Homo sapiens: one gene and its partners. The protein of the gene in region 2 interacts with the protein of the main gene of each other region in a pairwise test. Each region holds a gene or a part of one and is shown on either strand. Other genes may lie near its edges. The genes, in order: GPRASP3, L3MBTL2, AMOTL2 and ZBTB26.

Region 1 (7,025 bases), on a different chromosome or scaffold from region 2:
ACACTGCCAGATAAAATCCATCTATTTACCTCAGAATTTTCTCCTGACCTCCAGCCAGATGTAGCCAAATGTCTAATGGACACACGAATTTGGAGGAAGTTAAGAATTGTAACACCTGGCATGGACATGATCCATTGCAAAATTAAACCATTCAAACCAGTCTCTGAGCTTTGAAGGCCCCCCCACCTCAAAATGTCCTTCAGGAAGACTGTAAAGCAGTGTGGTGAGATGGGTTCTGGTGTCAGACAAAACAGCTATGCCACCTTCCTGCTGTGGGAATCTAGGAAAAGGTATTTAACCTCTCTAATTCTCATTGGAGGGTACCCAGAATAATGAGTTCTAATAAAAATATAAGTAACTAACTCACAAGATCACTGTGAGAAGAGGAAAAAAACTTGTAAAATATGGTGCCAACACAGTGTTTGACATAGAATAGGCACTCACAAAACGTTTCCTGCCTTCTCTTTTGTGAGATAACTTTGATGTAAATGAAACAGCCTAACAATTTAAGAGTTATGAATGTAGTAGCAAAATTAAAATTGAACAAATAATACATTTTGTCTGAGATTCTGAGTCATTTCTGTGTTGCGGAACGAGTATCTGATACAGCTGGAACAGGAGAAAAATAGTTTCTCTTACATTAAATAGCCTATAGGAACTCCTGCCTCCTTTATGTAGAGTGCGCACATTTGGCCATGAGCGTGCACGTGCACACACAGAGACACGCACACTCACACACACTCTCTCTCTAGGTACTGTTATCTTTGTGTGTGTGTATGCCTTACTTCTGTAACTAGATTACAAACTCAAGGATATTTTCTTTTTTGCCATTTTAAGCCACAGATACTAATGAACAAGTTAGCTTACTTAAAACGAACTGGTTTGCTATCTTAAGTAAAATGTTAAAAATATGCCAATCTAGACAAGATAAAAATCAAACATTTTCAGCCCAAGGTATAATATTCATTTGATACCCCCAAAATAGTCTAGCTCAAACCTAGAGCCTGTCACAGGTGACTCTGTGTTAAAGATGCAGTGTATAATGTGTACACTGTAATGTACAGCCTGCTAGAGTTTGAAGATGGCTTAAAATGTTCTATCTCTGGCTCATTTTACATTGTTTCAATAATCTCTTTAACTTCCCTGAAAATGGCCATGAGTGTATTATAACTCAAGTGATCAACAACTACAATTGAGCCTTTTCTGATATGCTCCTTTATGTTAATAAATATGGCCACACCACTAACAAGATTGGCTTTTGCCTCTTTCTGGTTAAAGATGAGTTTTAATGCTGCCAATGCCTTCATATTGATCATGTCTCTGGCTGCAGTTGGATTTTCAGACATATTTAAAAGTAGTTTCAAAACAAGATTTCTGGTTTTGCAATTTCCTGAGGACAGCAAATGGAAAAGCTCTGAAAAGTAATTGGCAACAATGTAGTGATGGACAAAATCAGTAGTCAGTTGTCCTAGTATCTTTAATCCAGATTGCTGTCCCGGTGAGTTCAAAGGAAATGACATGGTTTCTTTACACATATGCTTAACATGTAATTCAATTTTGCGTTGTCTTTCATCCCCAGAAGGAGGATTCAGAGTAATTACAGTCTTTTTTCTCATTTCAGGGGAAGGAAAACTGAGCAAGCTTTCAATAAGTGTCACTACACCTACTTCGTTAATAAACTCTTGGGCAAATGGGTGAACATTATGGACACCCATTGCAATCCGTGCTATTTTATGAATAAGAGGATCAGTAGTTGACTTAAGTAAGCTAACAAGTTTTTCAAATTCCTCAGAATCCATATAGCATTCCATTTTGCAAGGACAAGCAAATGGCTTAATCCCATTTACCTCCCTGATCCTGATTTGACGTCTAATCTCATCTATGGTCTGGATGCAGGGGTCAGAATCAAAACGACACTCAGGGATAGGCTGTGAGCATGAGCGAGTGTTCCTAGAAGGGCGGCAAGCTGTTGCCACAGGCAAAGAACAGGCATTTTCTTCAGCGGAGGCCAGAACAATATATGAAGGAGGGCTTGCCTCAGATGGTGCCTGGGATCTAAATCCTAACACAGCTGGAGTTACAGCAGGGGCATTGGGCCAGATAGTTACCTCAGACCAGTCCTTGGGCCTATTTTTTTCATTAATTTCATACACAGGCTGAGGCTTAACTATCCTGCTCACAGGTTTAGGATTAGGGTCAAAACTAGTATCATCTCCTTCCCAAAACCAGTTCCCAATAACATTCTCTTCCTCCTCCTCCTCAGCCCCTGACCTAGGTTTGCAATCGGCCCCAGCCGCAGGTTCCAACTCCTCAGCACAGACCTGGGCACCAATTTCAGGTTTATCATTCTTAGTGCTGAAACTATTACCAGCCTCTTCTCCATTCCAGAACCAGGAATTGATAGTGGCCTCTTCCCCAGCCCAGAACCAGGCATCAGTACCAGCCTCATTTTTACATGTGGAGCTGGTGGACTCATTCCCAGCCTTGGGAGTGAAATCTCCCATGGCTTTGCCCAGAGTCTTAGGCTCTGACAGAGCTCCTTCCTTCGTCTCAGCAACAACCTTGTTCTTAGACACTGCCTTCATCTCTGCTACTGCATCTGTCTTAGACCCTGTCTTGGCTTTTGCTTTGGCCCTGGTCTTGGCTACAGGCCTAACAACACCAGTAGCCTCCCTCTCTGCTCCAGCTTTAGCTTGTATAGCAGCCTTTTTTTCAGTTTTGGCCTGGGCTCTTGTCTTATTCTTAGTCCCAGCCATGGTTGAAGCCCAGTTATATGGCCCTGTCCAGTCTTGGCCTTGGTTCTCAATGTGTCCTAGGTCGAAGTCTTAACACTCTTTCACTGGGTCGGGGAAAAACTTGGTAGCAAGAATTAGAGTCAACTGTCAGTTCTGCAGTCACAAAGTTCTCTTTCCAAACATACAGCCTCTGTCAATGATACAGAGGGCAGAGGCACGCTCGGGCTGGGGGAGAATGATTGTTCCCAAGTGCAGACCTGCTGAAGGTGATGGTCTTCCAACAATCCAAAGCCACCACAGCCACCAGTGGAGATGGACCTGAGGTTGAAGAAAGAAACTGGCTTTGAGTCTTGTCTAACTGTGCTTCTCTATGCAAACAGCCACACAGAAGGACATAGGAGAGTAGAAATGAATTGTGTAGAAGTGGATTAATAAAAAACTCTGCTACTTAATTTTATACCTTGCACACTGCCACTAATGCTCAACAATGTCCTGCCCAAGCACTGTCATTCTTTTACTCTGCATCAAACAGGAACAAAGATGGCAGGTAAGCTTGCTGAGAGTGAGAAAGGCTAAAGGAGTGCCCAGTCTCTTTGGACCCATGCTAGTAGGTCCACCACTAAAATATATACCACTAGACCTCATAGGTGTATTCAGGCAGCACTCACACCAACCTGCACTGATCTAGTGCAATTTTTCCTCCTTCCCTGTTTGCAGTGTTGATATGCCCTATAGTTAACTCATGGGCAGGCCTATGGACAAAAATACAGATGGGATTGGAGTTCTGAGTATTTGGTTGACAGACCTACACTCTAATCTCTAAACCCAATTTCTGCCTTTCCAAATCTAGGGCTTTGGTTATATAACACTTCTGGCCTCCTAGTACTCCTTGTGGCTTATCTTCCCATTTCCTGCCCCAATATCTACCAATTACCTCATAGGCATAATCCTGGCTCACCCCACCCCATCACTTGTACACAAATGTGAGGTCAGAGGTGACTAGAAAGATGGAAGACAGTGGCACCAAGATATGATCTGGTCTAACCCACTTGGCAACAGCCTTTCCATAACCCCAATCAACGGGGGTGCTCACACATAAACCTACCTTGAATCCAAATGAATAGTTTTTGTTCTTTCTTAATTAACTTCCAAGTGAACAGCTACATACAGATCTCTACAGGAACCTAGAAAGAAACAGACCTAAGGATAGAAAGGAAGGCAGAGGAAAGAAAACAGAAGAGACTAAGATGATCTAATGCCTATAACAAGGATTATAACATATGCTTTTGAATATTCAAGGCTATGTTAAATGTCTCCCACCTGTCTGCTCTTCCTCAATGATTCCCTAATCACCCCAAGACCTGCAGCCTGATTACACCTCCTGCCAACTTTGAAGTCAGTCATTTTCCCAATAGAAGTTACAGCTCCTTTCCTGAACCAAAAAAAATGAGGTGCAGAAATAGGTAGTGGAACATAGGCAATTGTACTTACAAGGCAGGCAGGGAACATAATGGAGACTGTTATTTTAATACCATCTGTGCATGTCCTTCCCCTTCCCCATGCATACCTAGATCCTACTTTATTCACCACCTATGTCAGCCTGCTTATACAGCAGGAGTTCTCAGGAGATGCTATCCTTCCCACCAAAGAAGAGTCACGCCCTACAAAAAGAAGGCGGAGCAACTAGCAAAAAATAACCCCAAGAGACTATGTTAACAATGGTAGAAAAATAGCAGGTTAATGGACAGATTCCCAGAATTCGGATTCTAACACCTCCTTTTTGAGAATCAGAAACTAAGTAAATAAAGTCTCCCAACTCTCATAGCTCCTCAGATATCCACCATCAGAAATGCCATGAATTCTTCTGTGGGACTATTTCTGCACCAAAATGAGAGGGTCTGTGAGGAGTGGCTGGAGATGGAGTTTTGGTTTCCAGAACCATAAACTGAAGAAGCAGATTGACTTCAAATGTTCTAAATTGACCCTTCAAAAAGATTACCCCTCTACTCGGAACCCACATTCTCACACATCATTACATTACTTAAAGTGGATCAGCATGTTGAGAAAACAGATCCTGAACAAGAAAGGTGGAAAAATACTACCCTGTTATTTACATGGACCACTGTTGTGAAATTCGACTAAGTCCACACCCTATTTGCTTGCACAAAACTGGATGTGGGGATCTAAATATGTAAGGCAATAAAACAGTGCGGTATTATAAAAGGCGGTTAAACATTTCATTTTAGTGTCTTCATAATTCACCCACTCAAAGTTCCACTTTTGGAGAACCCAACAGACCTATCACGCAGACAGGAGACTTTAACAACCACCTGGAGCCTGTGGGAAGGGACAGCACCCAAGACACGGGGTCCCACAGGCCCCTTTCCGGAATCAGGGCCCCGAGTAGCGAACGCGGCCCACCTCTCGTGGGCTGGGCACAGAGCTGGGACGCCGGCTCCCCCCGGCCTTCCCGGGAGCCCCCCACAATGGCTCCCGCTCCGCCATTTCTCCCGCAGGAGCTCCCCCACAGCCCTTTCCGGGCACAGACACCGTCGAGGGCGGGGCGCCGGCGCCTGCAAAGCTGGCTTGGAGGCGGTCAGCGCGGTTCTCCTCCAGACGATCTGACGGTGCCTCTCAAGCCAGCCCCTCAGCCCTTGGCCTGGCTCGGCCTGCACCGGTCACCGCCTCCCCATCGCCAGGGGTCTCGAGCACTGCGCACCTCTCTCCGGCGACCGGCTCCGACCGGATCGTCTCCTCCTTGCCAGGATGTCAGGGTCGGCGGGGCAGGCTGCCAGCCGGTCCACCCTGGCGGACCACCCCAAGCTCACGCACCCCCACTTGCCTTCAGAGGCCCAGGGCCCAGGTCGTCGACCTCCCCCTCCTCTCCTCAGCTCTCCTCTGGCGGCTCCTCACTTCGATTCTCACCGCTTTCCCCGCTATCAGAATGGCAAAGACGCGTCCCGCCCCCCACGCCTCTGCACCAAACTGGGCAGGGGCTGCGCAGGATGCTGCAAGAACCGCTCTCTCCGCGAGGGTGTCGGGAAGGGGGGCGGAGGGATACGGCGCGAAAGTGCTCGACGCCCCCCTCTCAGGCCCACCTTAGTTCCGACCCAGAGGTGGGCGGGGCCATGACGAGCCCCAGCCTGGGCCTGCGGGTTGGCACCAGGCTGCCTCAGGAGGACCCCCGCGGACCCTAACGTGGCGACCACCACCACCACATTTCTGGCGTTGCTATAATATAGGGACGGGCGGGCGGCTGGGGACCCAGGCAGGGGACAGGATCAGGAGGTTGGGAAGAGCCGCGCTGGAGGGAGCAGCGGATGGATACCAAACCGCCCCTTGGTGTGTCTGCACCCCCGCCCCAACTCCCCAACCAGGGACTGCTGGGTGTCTGCCCCTTCCCTCTCCCCAGCCCTCTCACTCTCCTTCCTGGAAGCTAATGGGAGAGGGGGTGTCAGCAGTGCAGTCTGGGAGGGGTGAGGCGATTTCAGGCCAAACAAGCCTGGGCCTCTAGGGTGGTCCTCTTGTGCGTTTCTTTCCCAGCTTCATGGAGCCACGCAGGGGAGGAAGGTACACCTGCTCTTAAGTGAATTCTGGGGCAGGGGGCTCCCATCAAGGCCTCACCACTGCCCCTCTTCTAACAGAAGGTAGACCTAGACCTCTAACCCTAGGAAACCAACCACTGGTCTGTACCAGACTCATTTCTTTCTGCCACGCCGCTTTTTCTCATTTCAAATGGTGGCTCAGGTTGGCATTGCGCCGTCCCCACAGTTGACCCCAAAAGAGGGCCTTTCCCTGTCAGGACTCGCAGGAGGTCGTAACAGTCCTCTCTCTTTGATGGCACCAGGTAGGGATGGTCTTGGCGCCTCTCCACTGTTCTGGGAGGAGAGGGGACCACTATTCGCGCACTTCCTCGAGGCAGATCCCAGATTCCAGCTGCGCTCCTCAACTCCTCCTTTTCTCCCAGCCTTGCACCCTGCCTAATGCATGCATGTGCTTTTTTCTTCTGAATATATATATATTTTTTTACTCTCCCTTCCAAGCGATGGGGAGTTTGACTTGTTAGACTGGAAGTTTCCTGAATGAAAGTACCCTTTTGGTATTGTTCCCCACTGTATTCTCAGCACATTGTAGACGGTATAGTCAGTCAAGGGTTGAAGGAGGTGAGGGGCTACTGAATCATGACAATTCCATGGTACCCTCTGTGGTTTGCAGATCAATGCTAATTCATAGGTGTGTCTTTGCTGCCTGTAACCCCAGGGCTTAGCCCAGAGTATGCCACCCACAGCT
Region 2 (7,025 bases):
AATGTCAAGCCCTTAGCAAGTACTCCCAAACCATAGCTATTAATATTACCAATATTATTCTTAGCTCTCGGAAGAGAGGGATCTTTCGGTGCCTTAAGTAAAATCTACAAAATGGGGAAACAATGGTAATTGTCTCACAAAGGCGACAGTGTATGAAGCAGTAAGCAGAAGGATCTGGGACACAGCAATTTCTAATAAACATCGGTGGTGCTCAAACTTCGCTGCACATTAGGATCACCTGGGAGCTCTTCCAATCTCTGTCCAGGCTACACACCATCCCAGTTAAATCAGAACCTTTCGGAGTAGGACCCAAGCATCAATATATTTTACATAATATTTTCCCCCCAGGCTGGAGTGCAGTGGCACGATCTCGGCTCACTGCAACCTCCACCTCCCAAGTTCAAGCGATTCTCCTGCCTCAGCCTCCCGAGTAACTGGGACTACAGGCGTACAACACCACGCCTGGCTAATTTTTGTATTTTTAGTAGAGACGGGGTTTCATCATGTTGGCTGGGATGGTCTCGATCTCCTGACCTCGTGATCCGCCCGCCTCGGTCTCCCAAAGTGCTGGGATTACAGGCGTGAGCCACCGTGCCCGACCAGCATCAATAATTTTTAAACTTTCCAGGTGATCCCAACATGCAGGCAAATTTGGGAAGCAGTGTTGCAGATGCTGGTCCCAGCTACTGGGAAACAAGGTAAGATGAGGCCCCTGAGATGAGGTTCCAGCCTCAATTCCGCCATTCTCCTCCTACAGAGCCACACTAGGTATGTCATTCTACCTCCTTGGACCTCAGTATACTTATCAATAAATGTGTGGGTTCAACACCACATCCAAGAATCTTTCCATCTCTAAAGATTCTATAAATATCAGTAATTTAGAAAATTGGCAAGACTTTCTAGGTAGCTGCCTGTGACATGGAGTCCGAGGAGGCATGGTCTTCCTGAAGCCACCGTGGCTGGTGAACCTTGGGCCTGTTTCCCAACTTCCTTTGAAAGGATTTATAAAAGTGTGGGGTGAAGACCAAGGGTGTCAGACTCCCCCATAGTTCTTGTTTAAAATGTACTGAATACACCAGACTCTGGGGGATGATGGTAGGTAATGGAGCGTAGCTTCAGGAACCTATAATTTAAAAAGCTCCACAAATGGATTCTACTGTCCTCTGAAGTTTGAGAACATAATAAATACCAGCTGGCCACAAGCAAGGACCTTTTCAAACTTTCCTGGCCCTGGCCTTCAGTCACTTGGTGGTTCCTGTCTCAGCACCAAAGGCACCGGGAAGGATCCAAGTGATTGCCTCTCACCTGTAACCTAGCCAAGATACTGGCTTTCTTGGAGTTGGAGGAGTAGCTCCTGGAGCAGGAGACGCTGCAGAACCTCTTGGTCTTGGAGAAGAAGGCTTCCCTTGTACCCACGATACCACACATCTCACAGACAGCTGGGAAGAGAACTTAGCACATGACTCACCCGATATGACCACCTCAAAGCAAACAAAGTGATGGGCCCTTCAAAACCTGGGGCACTGCATTAACCAGGTGAGCCCCTGCCCCCACAAAGGCTAATGGAATAAGAGGAGGAATGGGAGGTACTGGTGTGTATATCCTGAATCTACCTGAATGAAGTGCTGCTGCTTGGCCTCCCTTGGCTACAGATGTCAACAGAGGGGCTAATGGAAATCCATGAGGACGACTGGGGGAACAGGTGAGTGTTGAAAAGTTTGTCAGAGGAAAGTGAGAAGAAACTAGGCATGGTAGCTCCTGTCTGTAATCCCGGCAGTTTGGGAGGCCAAGGAGGGAGGATTGCTTGAGGGCAAGAATTTGAGACCATCCTGGGCAACATAGCAAGACCTTGTTGCCCAAAAAAAAAAAAAAAAGGCCAGGTGTGATTTGGCGGGGGGAAACTGCCTGAGCCCAGGAGGCTGAGGCTGCAGTGAGCCATGACTGCACCACTGTACCTCTAGCCTGGGCAACAAAGTAAGACACTGTCTCAAAAAAAAGCGAAAAAATTTATAGGAAGAAAAAGTGCCAAAGTCACTTAACCTCTGTGGCTCTATTTTCTCATCTATATAGTAAAGGGACTGAACTAGATCAGTGTTTTATTTATTTATTTTTGAGACGGAGCCTTGCTCTGTCACCCAGCCTGGAGTAGTACACTGGCGCAATCTTGGCTCACTGCAAGCTCTGCCTCCCGGGTTCACGCCATTCTCCTGCATCAGCCTCCCGAGTAGCTGGGACTACAGGCACTGCCACCACACCCAGCTAATTTTTTTGTGTTTTTAGTAGAGACGGGGTTTCACCATGTTAGCCAGGATGGTCTCAATCTCCTGACCTTGTGATCCGCCGTGTCGGCCTCCCAAAGTGTTGGGATTACAGGCGTGAGCCAATGCGCCCAGCTAGATCAGTGTTTTAATCGTGACTTCACTTTTTTTTTTTTTTGAGATGGAGTTTTGCTCTTGTTGCCCAGGATGGAGTGCAGTGGCGCCATCTTGGCTCATTGCAACCTTCGACTCCCGGGTTCAAGGGATTCTCCTGCCTCAGCCTCTTGAGTAGCTGGGACTACAGGCATGTGCCACCACGCCTGGCTAATTTTTTATATCTTTAGTAGAGACGGGGTTTCGCCATGTTGAGCAGGCTGGTCTTGAACTCCTGACCTTGTGATCCTCCCGCCTCGGCCTCCCAAAGTGCTGGGATTACAGGCGTGAGCCACCATGCCTGGCCCGTGACTTCACTATTAGACCCACCTGGGGAGCTTTTAAAAATGCCTGAGATGGCCGGGCGCGGTGGTGGGCGTCTATAATCCCAGCTACTCCGGAGGCTGGGGCAGGAGAATCCCTTCAACCTGGGAGGCGGAGGTTGCAGTGAGCTGAGATGGCACCACTGCACTCCAGCCTGGGCAACAAGAGTGAAACGCTGTCTCAAAAAAAAAAAAAAAAAAGCCTGAACCTAAAATTCTAATGAATTGGTCTGTGACGGGATACTGGTACCTGTAGTTTGTTAAAAGCTCCCCTAGATGATTCTAATGTGCAGAACCCCTGGTCTAAGTGGTCTCTAATGGTTCCTTCTAGTTCTAAATCCTAAGATTCTAAGAGAAGGGCTGGAAGAGGATAGAAGGGAGAAAGATAAAAGGCAAGGGATGAAAAGAAGACAATATAAATAGAAAGGAAGTAAGGCCGGGAGCGGTGGCTCACGCCTGCAATCCCAGCACTTTGGGAGGCTGAGGCGGGCGGATCACGTAGTCAGGAGATTGAGACCATCCTGGCTAACACGGTGAAACCCCGTCTCTACTAAAAAATACAAAAAATTAGCCGGGCATGGCGGAGGGCGCCTGTAGTCCCAGCTACTTGGGAGGCTGAGGCAGGAGAATGGCGTGAACCCGGGAGGCGGAGCTTGCAGTGAGCCAAGATCGTGCCACTGCGTTCCGGCCTGGGTGACACAGCGAGACTCTGTTTCAAAAAAAAAAAAAAAAAAAAAAAAAGGCCGGGTGCGGTGGCTCACGCCTGTAATCCCAGCATTTTTGGAGGCCGAGGAGGGCAGATCACAAGGTCAGGAGATCGAGACCATCCTGGCTAACATGGTGAAACCCCGTCTCTACTAAAATACAAAAAAAATTAGCCGGGTGTGGTGGCAGGCGCCTGTAGTCCCAGCTGCTGGGGAGGCTGAGGCAGGAGAATGGCTTGAACCTGGGAGGCGGAACTTGCAGTGAGCCAAGATCATGTCACTGCATTCCAGCCTGGGTGACAGAGCAAGACTCCGTCTCAAAAAAAAAAAAAAAAAGGAAATAAGATTCAACTGCAAAGAGTATTAGATTACTCTTCTAACGAGTTTGGGGCTGGGTGCGGTGGCTCATGCCTGTAATCCTAGCACTTTGGGAGGCTGAGGTGGGGGATCACTTGAGCTTGGGAGTTCAAGACCAGCCTGGGTAACAGGGCAAAACCCCTGTCTCTACAAAAAAAAAATACAAAAATTAGCCAGGCATGGTGGCGTGCACCTGTAGTCTCAGCTACTCAGGAGGCTGAGGTGGAAGGATTGCCTGAGCCCAGGAGGTCGAGGCTGCAGTGAGCCATTTTCACACCACTGCACTGCAGCCAGGGTGACAGAGTGAGACCCTGCCTCAAAATAAAACAAAAAAAGTTTGGGATCTAAAGGATGGCAGTGTCCTCACAGACTATCCAGCCTGCCTCTCTTCACAGGCAGCCCACACATGGGAGGCCCTGACACAGGGGTTCAGCAGCTGTCCAAGCATCACATTTCCAAAGTCAACTGGCTTCCAGATGATCCATAGGGATTCTCATCTGCCCGCCCCCAACCCAGTCCTCCTACCCAGGGTCACTTTATCGTGTATTACCTTCCCACTCCCACCCTGACTTCCAAACCACAAGTTATTTGTCCCTTCTCAGAAAGTAACCAAAACACTTTAGGTTTCCTATCTTCTCAACATCCACGTTGGAAATCCATGGTATACTTATACAAAAAAGCAGCACCATGCTACTCAGTGGCATCTAATCTGTGCTGAATACACATTAGTTATATGAAAGAATGAGTGAAGTCACAATTTGAAATTAGACTAGGGCCGGGCACAGTGGCTCACTCCTGTAATCCCAGCACTTTGGGAAGCTGAGGTGGGTGGATCACCTGAGTTCAGGAGTTTGAGACCAGCCTGGCCGACATGGTGAAACCCCGCCTCTACTAAAAATACAAAAGTTAGGCTGGCGCGGTGGCACACGCCTGTAATCCCAGCACTTTGGGAGGCCGAGGCGGGTGGATCACGAGGTCAGGAGATCGAGACCATCCTGGCTAACGTGGTGAAACCCTGTCTCTCCTAAAAATACAAAAAATTAGCCGGGCGTCATGGCGGGCGCCTGTAGTCCCAGCTACTCAGGAGGCTGAGGCAGGAGAATGGTGTGAACCCGGGAGGCAGAGCTTGCAGTGAGCCGAGATCGCGCCACTGCACTCCAGCCTAGGCAACAGAGCGAGACTCCGTCTCAAACAAACAAACAAACAAAAAAATACAAAAGTTAGCTGGATGTGGTGGTGGGTGCCTGTAGTCCCAGCTACTTGGAAGGCTGAGGCATGAGAATCACTTGAACTCAGGAGGTGGAAGTTGCAGTGAGCCGAGATCATGCCACTGTACTCCATCCTGAGCAACAGGGCGACACTCAAGTCTCAAAAAAAAAAAAAAAAAAAAAAAGAAATTAGACTTCAGCAAAGGAAGTTAACACAGTGGCTACTTGGGGTGCTTCTGTCTCCCTTACAGGTCCTTACACATCTGATCCCTTAGAAATCAGAGTTAATAGCCTTTTACATCTGGATGGCTCTGCCCATATAGCCTATATCCACCCCCCTCTTCCTCTATAATCTTCTATCTCCTCTCCATCCTCAGGGGACACTCTGAAGGCACCTGGCTCAGAACCACTGCCATCCAAGGAGCGAGGAGTCCCAGGGCTGAGCAAATGCAGCGGGGAGGTCGGCAGTTCCCCTGCTTCCCGATCCTCATTTTCTGCTTCACTTGACTCCTCCAGATAGGAGCTGCTCTCACTGCCCACACTGCTGTTATAACTCCGGAAACTATCATAGCCACCAAACAGCTCCAAGTCGTCATCTTCCTCTTCCTCCATTGGTTCTGAAGATGGGGTCTCCTAATGGAGGATGACACAAACCAGGTAGAAAGAATTATGATTGGCTTTAGTGCACGGGGGGAGAAGCTGCAGATCTGCTATCAGCCCCCTCACACTTTCGGGAACCTTTCAAATACCCCTTTTACAAACACCAAGATCATTACTTCTATTTACACATTTCTCCACCATGATGCAATTCAACAGCTTAACAAGACAGAAAATATGTGTTAGGAATTCACCAGGCTCCTCTGTGGATTTACAAATGATGATATTTTAACATGGTTCAAATAGAATACTGTATAACAATGTGGGCCAGGTGCGGTGGCTCATGCCTGTAATCCTAGCACTTTGGGAGGCCGAGGCTGGCAGATCACCTGAGGTCAGGAGTTCGAGACCAGCCTGGCCAAGAGGGTGAAACCCTGTCTCTACAAAAAAATACAAGAAAAAATTAGCCAGGCGTGGTGGCGGGCACCTGTAGTCCAGCTACTTGGGAGGCTGGGGCAGAGAATTGCTTGAACCCAGGAGGCAAAGGTTGTAGTGGGCCAAGATCGTGCCACTGCACTCCAGTCTGCGTGACAGAGCAAGACTCCATCTCAAAAAAAAAAAAAAAGTGAAATATCCTAAGGTACTTCACAAAGACTTTCTGGGGTAGAAGATATATTAGAAATTAATTCTTAGCCAGGCACAGTGGCCCACACCTGTAATCCCAGCACTTTCCGAGGCCAAGGTGGGTGGATCACGAAGTCAGGAGTTCAAGACCAACCTGGCCAAGATGGTGAAACCCCGTCTCTACTAAAAATACAAAAATTGGCTGGGTGTGGTGGCGGGTGCCTGTAATCCCAGGTACTTGGGAAGCTGAGGCAGAGAATTGCTTGAACCCGGGAGGTGGAGGTTGCAGCGAGCTAAGATCGCGCCACTGCACTCCAGCCTGGTAATGGAGTGAGATGCTGTCTCAAAAAGAAAAACAAAAATTCTTCCCCGTTCAATATACATCAAAATGATCTCAACTCAGAAACAATTTAAGTCACAGAAAAGTTAATTTGGGACCTAGACTGCTCCAAAGAGGATGGGAGAGGCAGATGACACACAGATAACTGTGGCATCTTGGTGTGTACTACAGCGCTAGATTCAGCTCTGAGCCTAACTAGCTATAGGGCCTTGGGCAAGTCATTTAACTTCTGTGGGCTTCAACTTTCTCATCTATAAAATAAAAATATTTGACTCGTGAGATGCAAATGAGATAATGTATATGAATCTACCCAGCATGTAACAGAAAACGTGTGAAGAGCCTGGGTACGGTGGTTCACATCTGTAATCCCAGCACTTTGGGAGGCTGAGGCAGGTGGATTGCTTGAACCCAGGAGTTTGAGACCAGCCTTGGCAACACAGCCACACCCCATCTCTACAAAA
Region 3 (7,025 bases), on a different chromosome or scaffold from region 2:
GTGTGCAAGCCAAAGAAGCATGAGGACACTGGAAGACTCCTCGGGGACAGTCCTGCACCGCCTCATCCAGGAGCAGCTGCGCTACGGCAACCTGACTGAGACGCGCACGCTGCTAGCCATCCAGCAGCAGGCCCTGAGGGGTGGGGCTGGAACTGGGGGTACAGGGAGCCCCCAGGCCTCCCTGGAGATCCTGGCCCCAGAGGACAGTCAGGTGCTGCAGCAGGCCACCAGGCAGGAGCCCCAGGGCCAGGAGCACCAGGGCGGTGAGAACCACCTGGCAGAGAACACCCTCTACCGGCTATGCCCACAGCCCAGCAAGGGAGAGGAGCTGCCCACCTATGAGGAGGCCAAAGCCCACTCGCAGTACTATGCGGCCCAGCAGGCAGGGACCCGGCCACATGCGGGGGACCGAGATCCCCGTGGGGCCCCGGGAGGCAGTCGGAGGCAGGACGAGGCCCTGCGGGAGCTGAGGCATGGGCACGTGCGCTCGTTGAGTGAACGGCTCCTTCAGTTGTCCCTGGAGAGGAACGGCGCCCGGGCCCCCAGCCACATGAGCTCCTCCCACAGCTTCCCACAGCTGGCCCGCAACCAGCAGGGCCCCCCACTGAGGGGCCCCCCTGCTGAGGGCCCAGAGTCCCGAGGACCCCCACCTCAGTACCCTCATGTTGTACTAGCTCATGAGACCACCACTGCTGTCACTGACCCACGGTACCGTGCCCGCGGCAGCCCGCACTTCCAGCATGCTGAAGTCAGGTAACTCTCCCCACCTTGGGCTTTCCAACTCCTGGCTTTCTTCCAGCACAGGTCTCTCAGGGAGGAGAGCCTCAAGATCACAGCTTGTGTCAGAGCTAGCAAGATCCACCCCACCTCCAACCTGAGAAGGGAGAGCTAATGCCTGGCAGAGAAGAGGGACTTAGCTGAGGTCCCCTAAGAAGTTAGTGGTGTCCCTTGCCTTAATTCAGAGATAGGCACCATTGTCTGCTTAGCTGTAGCATTCAAGTAACTAGAGTCCCCAGAGTACACAAATTGCAGCAGGGGGTTAAAGGTTAGATTTCAGAAAGAACTTCCTAAAGGCAAGGTTGGGAATGATTGCCAAACTGTTTCCAAGTTAAGCAGGAAGAAGGTGGGACTTCCTTCTCTGGAGATTTTTTAAGAAAATATGAGCAGCTTGCTTTCTGTGATTATTGGGAGGCATTCCTAACTAGAGGCTGGAAAGGCCCAGTGGTCTGATTAGAGACCTCTCAGCATCTTACACCAGGGCAGGAGCTTACTTGTCTCTCCTCTTCATTTCCTGCCATATGCTCCCTGCGTCTGCAGCCTGCAGTGGGAAAGGATTCTGGGTCCAAGTGGGCCCTTTTCTGGTGAGGCTCAGGAGAGGCTGCTGGGCCATGGTAGGGACTTAGAGTTTGATTCTGAGTGTGCTGGGAGGCCCTCAGGGGATGTGATTTGGTTTACCTTTTCTAAATGCTCTCTCTGGCTACATGCAGAGCATGGTTTGTAAGGGGCCAGAATGGAAGCAGGAAGACCCGGGGAGGCAAGAAGTCTAGAGAGTTTGGAGAAATAAGTGTTCCTAGAAACAAGGCCCTGCCTCACGCTTCTCATCTTGCCCAGCATCTTTTCCAGAGAAGCAGACACAGCCATCACTGCTGCATCTCCCCCTATGGGAGTCCAAGAAACCCCACCAAGGGACCCCAAGGATTTCAGACTCTTCCTCTGGTGGCCCAAGGTCAAAGTCTGGTTCTCTTCATGCCTGCTGTGTTCCTTTAGTAAACACCCACTTTCCCACCGTCCGGCTTTCCTTGCTCTCGAGAAATGAGTGACATGATGGGGTTGGTATGGCGGAACCAGAGGTTGGAGCCTCATAGTTTTTCTCCAGCCTCCACCCCTCCAGACTCGCACTTTATCGCCCCTCTCAGGGCTCGGTCAGGAAGAGTTTCGGAAGCTGAGTGGTGGTTTCTTCTTTTGGACCAGCCTTATTGAACCCTGTCAGGAAAAGATAGTAATCACGGCAAGGAAGTAGACTGTTTGCAGGAGAACAAAAAGCAGGGGAGGGAGAGGACGAGGAGAAAGGAAAGCAAGTGTGAAGGGAAAGGAGTTGCTATTCTTTCTCAGAGCTAAGTCATCCCCAAAGAATGCCAGTTGTGTCTGCCTGGCCCAGTGCAGGGGGGAGCAAGTTCTTGAAGCAACCTTGAGAATGGCCATTTTAGCAGTGGAATGGAGAGTTTGAGCACTCCAGTGGGGACCCTCTTCCCAGCTCTTACTGGAAGCCCCACCTTAGGTAGTAGGAGAAATACATCTGCCCAATATCTCCTTTCAGATGATCCAGTGAAGATTATTTGTTAGGAAACGGGCTAGACTCCTAGCCTAGGGTCCTGAGAAGAGCAGGGGGGCCATAGGCTGCATGGCAGCAAGAGTCAGGGGCAGGCTGGGTGTGCATTAGTGCTGAGATGATGCACCCAGAAGGGGAATTCGGTTTTTGCGGGGCTTCTGGGACTTGGAAGATTCTTTGTGAAACTGAGGCAGTTGTGACACTGGGAATCACAAGGTCCCAGGAAGGCCCTTGGACTCCCCGTGCCTCTTGCCCTTTGCTCCTTCCCTCAACATGGAGCCCTGGGGGTGATGTTACACCAGTGCCAGAGGCCAATAGAATATTGTCCCCTGAACTCAGTGACCACAGTAGTCCAGAGGCAGCCCTTACTCCCAAGGAAACCAAGAGTTTGGGCCACATTTGTTCTCTAAACTGAGGGTAAACTGAGGCTCCTACTAGAAGAGATGGAGGATGGGCCACCATTATAGGAGCACCTGCCACCCGCCCAGCACTGGCCCAGCACTCTGCCAGGCCTTACATAGCGTCATCCTCAACAAATCCCAGCGAGGCTGGAGACCCTCATGATGCAACAGAGCAATGCCCAGTCTGTGGGGCTGAGGCACTCGCCCAAGGTTAAACAGCTGGAGCAGGGATTTGAACCCCTATTTGTCAGACTCTAGAGCTCAGACTCTTACCCTGACATTTGTCTCATTGCTCTAACCTTAACTGGAGTCTTCTAAAAATGACTCTGGGTGAGTGGGGGGTGGGGGGTGGCAGGACTTGAAATAGGAAGGAGAAAATGAGTGCTGCTTTGGCAGTCTTGAAACTGGCGACTCGTGTAATAGACACAAGGTTGCTGCTGGGGCCCAGCCACCAAAGTTGTCCTGGGGCCTGGAAGGTTATATGCTCAGTCATGATTGACATGGCCTCCAGCCCCAAAAATAACCTTCCATTGATTAGAAGTGTCAGGGTGCATTTTTTAAGATGATGTATTTAAGCATTAGTTGCTTAGGAGGCCCAGGATTGCTCAGGCTGATCCCCAAGGCCCCAGCCACTGTGAGGCGGGTATGAAACAAGCATCCTGACATTAATCCCCTCTAGCCCTGCTGTCTGACTCTTGAGAGCCTCAGGCAGAAACATTTGGAAAAGGCCTTCCCTACTGGTCCCTGCCTAACACTAGAGGGTTGAATAATTATCTGCAGTAATTTTAATAATATATTAATTATTGATAATAATTAACCATCTTCCCAGTATGCCTAGGAGTGGGGTGACCCCGGGCTGCTCTGGTGGGAGCCATGAGGGTCTGTGCTGTCTCTGAGCACCGTCTCTTCTGTTCCCCAGGATCCTGCAGGCCCAGGTGCCTCCTGTGTTCCTCCAACAGCAGCAGCAGTACCAGTACCTGCAGCAATCTCAGGAGCACCCCCCTCCCCCACATCCAGCTGCTCTCGGCCATGGCCCCCTGAGCTCCCTCAGTCCACCTGCTGTGGAGGGGCCAGTGAGTGCCCAGGCCTCCTCAGCCACCTCGGGCAGTGCCCACCTGGCCCAGATGGAGGCCGTGCTGAGGGAGAATGCCAGGCTGCAGAGAGACAATGAGCGGCTGCAGAGGGAGCTGGAGAGCTCTGCGGAGAAGGCTGGCCGCATTGAGAAGGTAGGCCCTGCTGGGGCTTCAGAAGGGCAGACCAGAAAGAGACCCCGAGGGGCTACCTGGGGAGTGGGTAGTCCAAGGAGAGGCAGAGGAGCCTGAAAACTGTTTGGCTGGATTTCTCCCTATCCCTCTGTCTTCCACCTCCCTCACTCCTCATGCACCCTCCTGAGCTGACTCCAGACAGCTGGGGAACAGCCGAGAGGCCGGCAGAGCAGGCCTGGAGCATGAACAGTTGCTGGCCAGTGGTGATTAGAAAGAGCCCATTCACCAGCTCCTTGCACACTCGCACCCTTGCCCTGCACACACCCCCTCCCATGGACACCTCCCACAGAGAGCCCTTTGTGTCCCCCACACAACAGCAAGTCTGTTCCAGGCCAGCCCTGGCCAAAAAGAAAACTTCTCCTCTTGGAAAAAAAATGGGCGACTTGTTGGAATCACAGGCCAGCTAAGAGCACGTGCGGAACCTGCCAGCAGCCAAGTGGGAGGAGCAGCCGGGGCCCAGCTGGCCCTCTGGGTGGATGGTGATGCCTGGGACACCAGGCAGAGGCAGCTCTGCCTGGTGCCCGCTTCTTTAGTGAAGGGTTACCAGTTTTCCGCTGAGGCTCAGTTTTAGCAGATGGCCTCAGGCCTCCCTTGACTGTCCTGTGGTGTCCAAGTTAGGTCAAACCACCCCATCATGGCTGGAGTCTTTCGGTGCCCACTTCTGGCCAACTGTACTCAGTTTCTTGGTGGAAGCCAGCCAAGAGTAGAATGTTTCCTTCTGGACACTGGGCACAGGGAAGCTGTGTTTAGTCACCCCGCAGGCAGCTACTTCCAAAGTACCTGGCCCTGGGTTCACTCAGCATCTGGTCCTTGGGGCAGCCGATGGGACCGTTGCTTGCTGGTCCCAGCAGTCTATTCTACTTCCGGAGGCTACAAGCTTCTGACCATCCCACCATAGTCACCTGGAGGTTTTGCTCCTGTTTGGTGGCCTCTCATCTGTCACCTTTTCTGATGGAGAGTAGTGGGTCAGCCTCGAATCACTCCCTGGGAGCTCTCGCCTTCATTCAGCTCTGCTGTCTGACTCTTGCAGCTGGAAAGCGAAATCCAGCGGCTCTCTGAGGCCCATGAGAGCCTGACCAGAGCCTCCTCCAAGCGTGAGGCCCTGGAGAAGACCATGCGGAACAAGATGGACAGTGAAATGAGGAGGCTGCAAGACTTCAACCGGGATCTTAGAGGTGAGAGCCAGTCACACAGGTGGAGGTTGGAGAACCTCTGCAGAGGACTTACTTCTTTTGTTCTAGAGAAAAATTGGGAATCTCTATTCTCTGTCAAAAGTGCAGATGAACTCAGAGAGCCAGGCTGAGACCCCTTTGGAGCTGCCCTGATAGAGAGATGCTTGTCTCTATGTACTGGGCCTAGGATCCCCTCAGGGATGATGGCTCTTGACAGAGGAGGCTCCCACCCATGGGGCCCTGAGCTGAGCTGGGGTTTCCTTATGAACCCATCCCCAATATGGAGGATACAGCCCCATCCTGATAGGACGTCAGGAAAAATCCCAAGCTGGCAGCTTCACCTGACACTAAAACATCTTTCCTTCCCTTGAAACAGAGAGATTGGAATCTGCAAATCGCCGCCTGGCAAGCAAGACACAGGAGGCCCAGGCCGGCAGTCAGGACATGGTGGCCAAGCTGCTTGCTCAGAGTGAGTAGGGGCCCCACTAAGAAGCCTGGCCTGTGTGCAGGCAATGGGACTGCTGCACACCCTCTGGACTAGGAAGATTGGCCTTCCCCCTTGCAAAGTAGTACTTTGGGAGCAGGTTTACTGCCCACTGTATGCCCAACACTAGACTGGATCTGGGGATAGTGGGGATAAGTGGCTTCCAAAGAAGAATAGGATCTAGTTCTGTATCTTTTAAGAAGATCAGCTGACACAAGAGGGAAAGCCAGGGAGCAGTGATTTGCTGAGCTTCGGTGCTGACCACCAGTGCAGTGCATTGGGCAGTGCGGGAGGCAAGGTAGCCCTGAAGACAGATGAGGTGAAGGAGAAGGACAGGTCTGAGAGCTTCCCAGGGAGTTCCTGGCAACAGAAAGGTCGGGAGTGTGCAATGGGAATGTGAGAGGTAGGGGGGCATGGTGGAGCTGAGCCATAGCAAGCCAAGTGGAGGCATCTGAGGCAGCCAAAAATGGGATCCTAGACCTTAACCAACAGATGCATTCTAAACGGGGCGGTCTAAGCATCCTTGAAGAATGGGCAAGTTCATTGACTAGTCCATTTATTCATTCATTAGCAGATGTGTTTTAAGCAACTGGCAGATGTTCAAGAGAGAATGGGAGCAGGCCCAGGAAGGTACCATGGCAGGGAGGTCAGGAAGGAAGTGGTGAGCTTAAGAAAGGAGCAGGTTCCCACAGATGCAAAAGAACAACGGGGGTGGCCCTAGAAACCGGTGATTAGGAGCCCCGGTGGCCTGAGAGAGGGGCTCTGTGGGGATGGCAGGGGTGGAGAGCCAGCCAGAGGTGAAGGAGCTATTGGGCAGTTCAAGAGGTACATGGGGTGGGTGGCAAAGGGAGCCCTGAGCTCAGCAGCAGGAGGCTCTAGCAATCAGAAGAGACTAAGAACAGTTATTTATTGAGCTCCTACTAGGAGCTTTAGTGCTGTTCAAGGTGTTTGCAGAGAAGTGGAATGGGAGTGGTTGGTAGCTGGGTAAACATGGCTTTGAGTCTTCACAGGAACCCTACTGTGAATGGCACAAAGGGTAGTGTGGGGTGCAGAAATGGAGGAGCAGCTTGAGGACTTAGCTCTGGCTGGCAGCACCCCTATCTTCCTTCAAAGAGGGTTCAAAGACTAGGGCAGGGAATGGGGGAACACAGCACTGAAGGAATTGACAGGGTGGGGCAGGAGGTAGGCTGGTCTCTTCTGGCTGGGTGGGGTGAGATGGCAGCGGCTTAAGGTCTCTGGGAAGGAGTCAAAGGGAAGGAGGGAGAAAGGGGAGGGGGCAGCCCTGGGGTTTCCCTGAGGAGTCTGGGGAGGAGAAGCTGCAAGGGCACGGCAGATTAGGGTGCCTGTGGAGGAAGGCGGACTTCTGGAGCCTGA
Region 4 (7,025 bases), on a different chromosome or scaffold from region 2:
TGGAAAACAGTTCAATAGTTAAGTAATTTGCCCACTTCCACATAACAGTTCAAAAAAAAGAACTAGGCCGGGCGTGGTGTCTCACGCCTGTAATCCCAGCACTTTGGGAGGTGGGAGGCTGAGGCATGAGAATCACTTGAACCTGGGAGGCTGAGGTTGCGGTGAGCCGAGATCACACCACTGCACTCCAGCCTGGGCAACAGAGCGAGACTTGGTCTCAAAAAATGAAAAAAAATCAAAAGAAGAATTAAATCTATATTCATCAACATAAATTGCTTTCAAAAACAATGAGTGAAAAAAGTAAGTTGCAAAACAATATGTATAGTTTATGTATAAGAAACTTAATTACGTTATACTTTTGTGGCTAGACATATAGAAGTATTGTTTTTAAAATGCCAGGAGGGGCCGGGCACAGCGGTTCATGCCTATAATCCCAGCACATTGGGAGGCCGAGGCGGATGGATCACTTGAGGTCAGGAGTTCAAGAACAGCCTGGCCAACATGGTGAAACCCCATCTCTACTAAAAATGCAAAAATTATCCGGGCTTGGTGGTGCATGCCTGTAATCCTAGCTACTCAGGAGGCTGAGGCAGGAGAATTGCTTGAACTCGGAGGTGGAGGTTGCAGTGAGCCAAGATTGCACCACTGCACTCAAGCCTGGGCAACAGAGCAAGACTCCGTTTCAAAAAATAATAAATAAATATATAAATAAATAAACAAAATGCAAGGAGGGAGAGTCAGGAAGGATCAAACTTAAACTGAATACTGAGTGGTAGGCAGTTGAGAAGGGGAATTACATCTAAAATCTTCAAAAATTTTTCAAGAAGAATACATTCTGTATATATTACTTAAAAGTTGAAACAAAAGCTTGATAACTTGGAGAGTATCGTGTCATGAAAGTTACCTAAAAGAAGAACAAGATTAAGGTTTATAGAGAGAAAGGCTGTAGTATAATACAGCCTCTTTAGAAAAAGAACATACCATGTCAATGAGGGACAAAGATTTCCAAGTAGTTTTGAGTGGTAAGTTGAAAGATAAGGGCACTTTTATGAGACAGGTGAGGAAGCAAACTGATACCTAGCTTAAGAATTTATTATACAGATAGAAAAATTTTACTTGCCAGTAGTTATTAGAAGCATTTGAGAAAAGAAACTATTTTCTCACTGCCTGTAGTATAGCAATTTACATTGTCCCACCTGGAATATTCAGTAATTAGTCATTTTTTACTATCCTCATTTGAACAAAGGGAAAATTTCAAATTAGTTATAATTGTGGAAGGATTGTATAAATATAAATGAAGAGGAAGTGAGAATATTCCCATTACATTGATGTTTGAGAAATATCATTCAAAACTTGCTAATAGAAACTCAACAGTATTCAGATTTAATCTCAGTAACTGAGGCAATAGATAATAAAGACCTGAACTATGGCAATGATGTAAGAATGGAGGAGTGAGGAGTTGGTGATCATTCTGAGGAAAGAATCAACAAAATATGATGACTGTGTCTCTGATCTACCTGATCAGTTCTTTACTTTCCTTCAGTTACAAGAAGCTTGACTATAACCTAGAATTATCTGAGTGATTTTTATGATTATTTTGAGTAATTACTGCTATACTTAGAAGTTACCTACAGTTGGGGATTGTGAAATCAAATATATTCATAATTTTTATTGTCTGCTTTATTTGCAAATGGCATTAAGTTTCAGTCCACAAAGATAAATACACAAAAGATGGAAAATAATATAAAGTAAAATAGATGAGAAAGGTATAATAAGGATAAAGGCATAATATGCAATCAGGAATATGACTAATACATATATGCTTGCCATTTAAGTCTTCTAATTTCATGCAAATTTGGCTTGAAGTTATAACTTGTTTTTAAACATAAACCTTTTTTTGAAGCATAACAAAAACAAAAATATACAAGTCATAAGTGTGCAGCTCAATGAATTTTCTTGGCCTGTGTTTGTGATACTGAATGTAAGGAAGGAAATCTGAAGAGTTACACAATTTTTTTTTTTTTTTTTTTTGAGACGGAGTCTCGCTCTGTCGCCCAGGCTGGAGTGCAGTGGCACAATCTCAGCTCACTGCAAGCTCCACCTCCCGGGTTCACGCCATTCTCCTGCCTCAGCCTCCCGAGTAGCTAGGACTACAGGTGCCCGCCACCACTCCTGGCTAATTTTTTTTTTTGTAGTTTTAGTAGACACGGGGTTTCACCGTGGTCTCGATCTCCTGACCTCATGATCTGCCCACCTCGGCCTCCCAAAGTGCTGGGATTACAGGTGTGAGCCACCGCACCTAGCCGAGTTACACAATTATTATCCTTGAGATAAAACTGTACCAGCCAGGTGCAGTGGCTCACACCTGTAATCCCAACACTTTGGGAGGCTGAGGCAGACAGATTACCTGAGGTCAGGAGTTCAAGACCAGCCTGGCCAACATGGTGAAACTCCATCTCTACTAAAAATCCAAAAATTAGGCCTGGCGCAGTGGCTCATGCCTGTAATCCCACCACTTTGGGAGGCCGAAGCAGGTGAATCACCCGGGTCGGGAGTTCGAGACCAGCCTGACCAACATGAAGAAACCCCGTCTCTACTAAAAATACAAAATTAGCCAGGCGTGGTGGCGCCTGCCTGTAATCCCAGCTACTGGGGAGGCTGAGGCAGGAGAATCACTTGAATCCGGGAGGTGGAGGTTGCGGCAAGCCCATTGCACTTCAGCCTGGGTGACAAGAGTGAAACTCTGTCTCCAAAAAAAAAAAAAAAAAAAAATTAGCTGGGCATGGTGGCAGGCACCTGTAATCCCAGCTACTCAGGAGGCTGAGGCAGGAGAATCACTTGAACCCAGGAGGCAGAGGTTGCAGCAAGCCGAGATCACGCCATTGCACTCCAGCCTGGGCAACAAGAGTGAAACTACATCTCAAAACAAGAAAAAAAAAATTGTACCTAGATTAGTTGTTTCATACCTGGATTTTGGCATCATGCAGTGTAAACCACCAGTTCCAGATCTAACACTTAACACTTTCAACCTCCGTTGGGGTTTACAAGTTATTTATGTTTTCTAAGCTTAGTTTCGTCATATACAAAATGTGGGATAATGGTAATACTTACCTGTAGAAATTTTCACGATTAAATGGGTCAATTTATTTATTTATTTATTTATTTATTGTGATAGGATCTGGCTCTTTCACCCAGACGAGTGCAGTGGCATGATCATGGCTCACTGCAACGTCTGCCTCGTGGGCTCAAGCCATCCTCCCATTCAGCCTCCCAAGAAGCTGGGACTACAGGCGCATGACACCACGCCCAGCTAATTTTTGTATTTTTTGTAGAGACGGGGTTTCACCGTGTTGGCCAGGCTGATCTCAAAGTCCTGAGCTCAAGCAGTGTGCCCACTTCAGCCTCCCAAAGTGCTGGAATACAGGCATGAGCCACTGTGCTCGGCCTAAATGGGTCAATTTAGGTATAACATCTATACCTGAAATGTAGCAAGGAAGATTAGGTATCATTTCTCTTATTTTTAAATAAAATTAAGATGGTTCATAAGAAACTTTTTTTAACTATCAAAAAAAATTTTTTTTAAGTGTTTAAAACAGGTTCATGCCTGTAATCCTAGCACTTTGGGAGGCCTTGTGGGAAGACTGCTTGAACCCAGGAGTTTTAGGTTACAGCGAGATTTGATTGCGCCACTACACTCCAGCCTAGGCAACACAGCGAGACCCTGCCTCTACAAAAAATAAAAACATTAGCTAGGTGTGGTGGTGTGCACCTGTAGTCCTGGCTACTCAGGAGGCTGAGGCAGGACGATTGTTTGAGCCTTGGTGCCAAGGCAGCAGTGAGCTATGATTACGCCACTGCATTCTAGCCTGGGTGACAGATGACAGAGTGAGACCTTGTCTCAAAAAAAAAAAAAAAAAAGAAAGTTGAAATTTGGTTTTATATTGCCAAAACTATTTTGGTAACAAACCCTAGAAAGAAAGCTTTCCCTAGGCACTCAAAAGAAGATATCATAATGAAGAGCATCTGTACCATAGCCTAGTAATAATTTCATGGGGGAACATTAAGAACTCATTATTCTTCTGTTTTTTGTCAAATGAGCTGTATAAAGTATAACAAACCATTGGTCATTGCCCTCAAATAACTAACAGTCTATTGGAAAGAGAAACTAGTGAAAGGAAACAATTAAGGGATAAGATGTGTGGCCTGGAAATAAGAATTTATCAGAGAGAGACAATAGAGTGGGCTGACACATCCTAGGGAAAACATCCTTTAAGAAACCAATAAATTTTGCTCACATTCTTAGACTACAGCAGACAGATCAAAGCAAACACTTCCCTGAACTATCTGGTTGGCTGCTGTTGTTGATAATTTTCTTGAGAACTGATGGATAGGAAGCACAGTCATGCATCACTTAACAACTGTGATGTGTTTTGAGAAATGCGTCGTTAGGTGATTTCATCATTTTGTGAATATCACGGAGTATACTTAATGCAAACCTAGATGGTATAGCCTACTACACACCTGGGTTGTATGACACAGCCTGTTGCTCCTTGGTTATAAACCTGTACCACATGTTACTATACTGAATACTGTAGGCAATTGTAACACAATGGTGTTTGTGTATCTAAATATAGAAGAGGTACAGTAAAAATATGGTATTATATTCTATGGGACCATCATTGTATATGCAGTTCATTGTTGAACAAAACACTGTCATATGACACATGACTAAATGAAACTACACTCCAGCTCTTCATCTTTAGAGCAAGGAACAATTGTCTCTGAGGATAGTTGTCTAAAGCATTGTGAGTACTGTCATAATATAGGTAGAACCAATGAATGCTTATTTTGGGGTGTGAGGAGGGAAATACTGATCTGAGGGTTTCATAGGCACCTTCAAAACCAGCTAAATGCTAAAAAAGAATGCCACTTTTGTTTGGCCACTTGAAACAGTCATTTTTACAACTCTGGTTACAAATTGGAACATTCATCACTCCAAATCCAAAATGAGTATTTTAAGCTACTGCAGTTGCTAAAAGTGACCAATGATAATAGTTTTGCTGCTTTAAATTACTGACATTTTCCCTGTATATCTTCTACATTTTCCCTTCATGTTTGATACTCACTGTCTTTTCTCTGATGTTTCATTTGCTTGTCTACATCGCTCCTCTCTCAATGCAGTTTTTGTATTTATTGTGATTATCGGTACATTCAAAATGTCATACAAGGGGAAAGATTATGCTTTGTTTGTGTTTTTATTAATATACTTATTACTTCTTCTTATATTGGTGCCACACCAGTTCCCCCTCCTAAATTTCACCTCTCTTTCTTTTTTTTTTTTCTTTTTTTTTTTTGAGATGGAGTCTTGCTCTGTTGCCTAGGCTGGAGTGCAGAGGCGCAATCTCGGCTCACTGCAACCTCCACCTCCCGGGTTCAAACAATTATCCTGCCTCAGCCTCCCGAGTAGCTGAAACTATAGGCGCCCGCCACCATGCCGGGTAATTTTTTGTGTTTTTAGTAGAGATGGGGTTTCACTGTGTTAGCCAGGATGGTCTGGATCTCCTGACCTCGTGATCCACCAGCCTTGGCCTCCCAAAGTGCTCACAGGTGTGAGCCACTGTGCCTGGCCGGTCACCTTCTTTCAATGCCATTCTCATTCAAATGAACTCCTAAATGTAGAATCTTTACACATTCCTTTTATTCATTCTCTATATCCAGTCAGTTACCAAGTTCTTTGAAATATCTTTTGTTATTTTTCCTTTCGTCTTATTCCCATTTTTATTTCTTTCTAGGCCATCATGGCCTCAGACCTGCAATGCTTCTGCAGACACTAAGCTGGTCTTCCTAACAACAGTTCTTCCTTACCACTGTCAAACTAATCTGATAGGTTCAACTAATGCAAACTGAGCACTTGCTGTGTATTTAGTGCAGTCTTAGGCGATGGGAATACACACTGATTTGAACAGAAGAGGGTTTGGCCAGTAATGGGACAAGCAATGTAGCTGCAATAAGTATAATATAATTCAAAGCAAAAGTAAAGAATATTTTGTCTTAGAAGATGCAAGTTCCCAGCATTAGATGGAGATACTTCCCCCTAATACCATGAAACTTGGAGTTTGGATGGGAAGGAATAAGTATTTAATAAAGTGTGTTGAGTGTTACAGTAGAAGTATGCAATGGGCCCAGAAGAGACAATTCTACTCTATTAAGCGGTCAGGGAAGGGCCTCTCAGAGAAAATAAAGGAGTCACAATTGTTTAGAAAGTGGTGTTTTTGTTTGTTTTATTTTACTTTGTTTTTTTAGACAGAGCCTCATTCTGTCACCCAGGCTGGAGTGCAATGGCACAATCTCGGCTCGCTGAAACCTTCACCTCCCAGGTTCAAGTGATTCTCCAGCCTTGGCCTCCTGAGTAGCTGGGACTACAGGCACGTGCCACCACACCTGGGTAATTTTTGTATTTTTCATAGGGACAGGGTTTCACTATGTTGGCCAGGCTAGTCTCGAACTCCTGACCTCGTGATCCACCCACCTCAGCCTCCCAAAGTGCTGGGATAACAGGCATGAGCCACCATGCCTGGCTTGTTTTTTGTTTTGGTTTTTGTTTTTGTGATGGAGTTTTGCTCTTGTTGCCCAGGCTGGAGTGCAGTGGTGCAATCTTGACTCACCACAACCTCTGCCTCCCGGGTTCAAGTGATTCTCCAGCCTTAGCCTCCTGAGTAGCTGGGACTACAGGCATGTGCCACTACGCCCAGCTAATTTTGTATTTTTAGTAGAGATGGGGTTTCTCCAAGTTGGTCAGGCTGGTCTTGAACTCCCGACCTCAGGTGATCCGCCTGCCTTGGCCTCCAGAAGTGCTGGGATTACAGGCGTGAGCCACCATGCCCAGCCTAGAAAGTAGTGTTTTAAACTAAGGAAACAAGTATCATTAGGTCTGGAGCCAAGAGAGAGCTGTTATGTATCAGGCATTAAGGAATAAGAATAAAACCTGGACTCTGCCATCAGGAGCTGATATCCATTGTTACAGA

The links.
Region 1: the proteins of L3MBTL2 (region 2) and GPRASP3 interact in binary tests that used the Homo sapiens proteins (3 or more experiments, as listed by UniProt).
Region 3: the proteins of L3MBTL2 (region 2) and AMOTL2 interact in binary tests that used the Homo sapiens proteins (3 or more experiments, as listed by UniProt).
Region 4: the proteins of L3MBTL2 (region 2) and ZBTB26 interact in binary tests that used the Homo sapiens proteins (3 or more experiments, as listed by UniProt).

Annotation. Positions count from the first base shown.
Region 1 is NC_000023.11:102,744,727-102,751,751, reverse strand, and holds part of GPRASP3 (G protein-coupled receptor associated sorting protein 3), read right to left. Parts: intron 5,774-7,025; exon of another isoform or gene 5,578-5,773; intron 3,936-5,577; 5' UTR 3,841-3,935; intron 3,054-3,840; 5' UTR 2,757-3,053; coding exon 1,113-2,756; 3' UTR 1-1,112. UniProt on the Homo sapiens protein: Survival and differentiation promoting protein that plays a role in the regulation of neurosynaptogenesis. Induces phosphatase PP2A activity which results in APP dephosphorylation and inhibits BACE1-mediated processing of APP.
Region 2 is NC_000022.11:41,208,307-41,215,331, reverse strand, and holds part of L3MBTL2 (lethal(3)malignant brain tumor-like protein 2), read right to left. Parts: intron 6,211-7,025; exon of another isoform or gene 5,637-6,210; coding exon 5,399-5,636; exon of another isoform or gene 5,381-5,398; intron 1,703-5,380; exon of another isoform or gene 1,440-1,702; coding exon 1,306-1,439; exon of another isoform or gene 629-1,305; intron 1-628. UniProt on the Homo sapiens protein: Putative Polycomb group (PcG) protein. PcG proteins maintain the transcriptionally repressive state of genes, probably via a modification of chromatin, rendering it heritably changed in its expressibility.
Region 3 is NC_000003.12:134,364,428-134,371,452, reverse strand, and holds part of AMOTL2 (angiomotin-like protein 2), read left to right. Parts: coding exon of another isoform or gene 1-19; coding exon 20-753; intron 754-3,590; exon of another isoform or gene 3,591-3,649; coding exon 3,650-3,956; intron 3,957-5,025; coding exon 5,026-5,170; intron 5,171-5,543; coding exon 5,544-5,636; intron 5,637-7,025. UniProt on the Homo sapiens protein: Regulates the translocation of phosphorylated SRC to peripheral cell-matrix adhesion sites. Required for proper architecture of actin filaments.
Region 4 is NC_000009.12:122,921,513-122,928,537, reverse strand, and holds part of ZBTB26 (zinc finger and BTB domain-containing protein 26), read left to right. Parts: intron 1-7,025. UniProt on the Homo sapiens protein: May be involved in transcriptional regulation.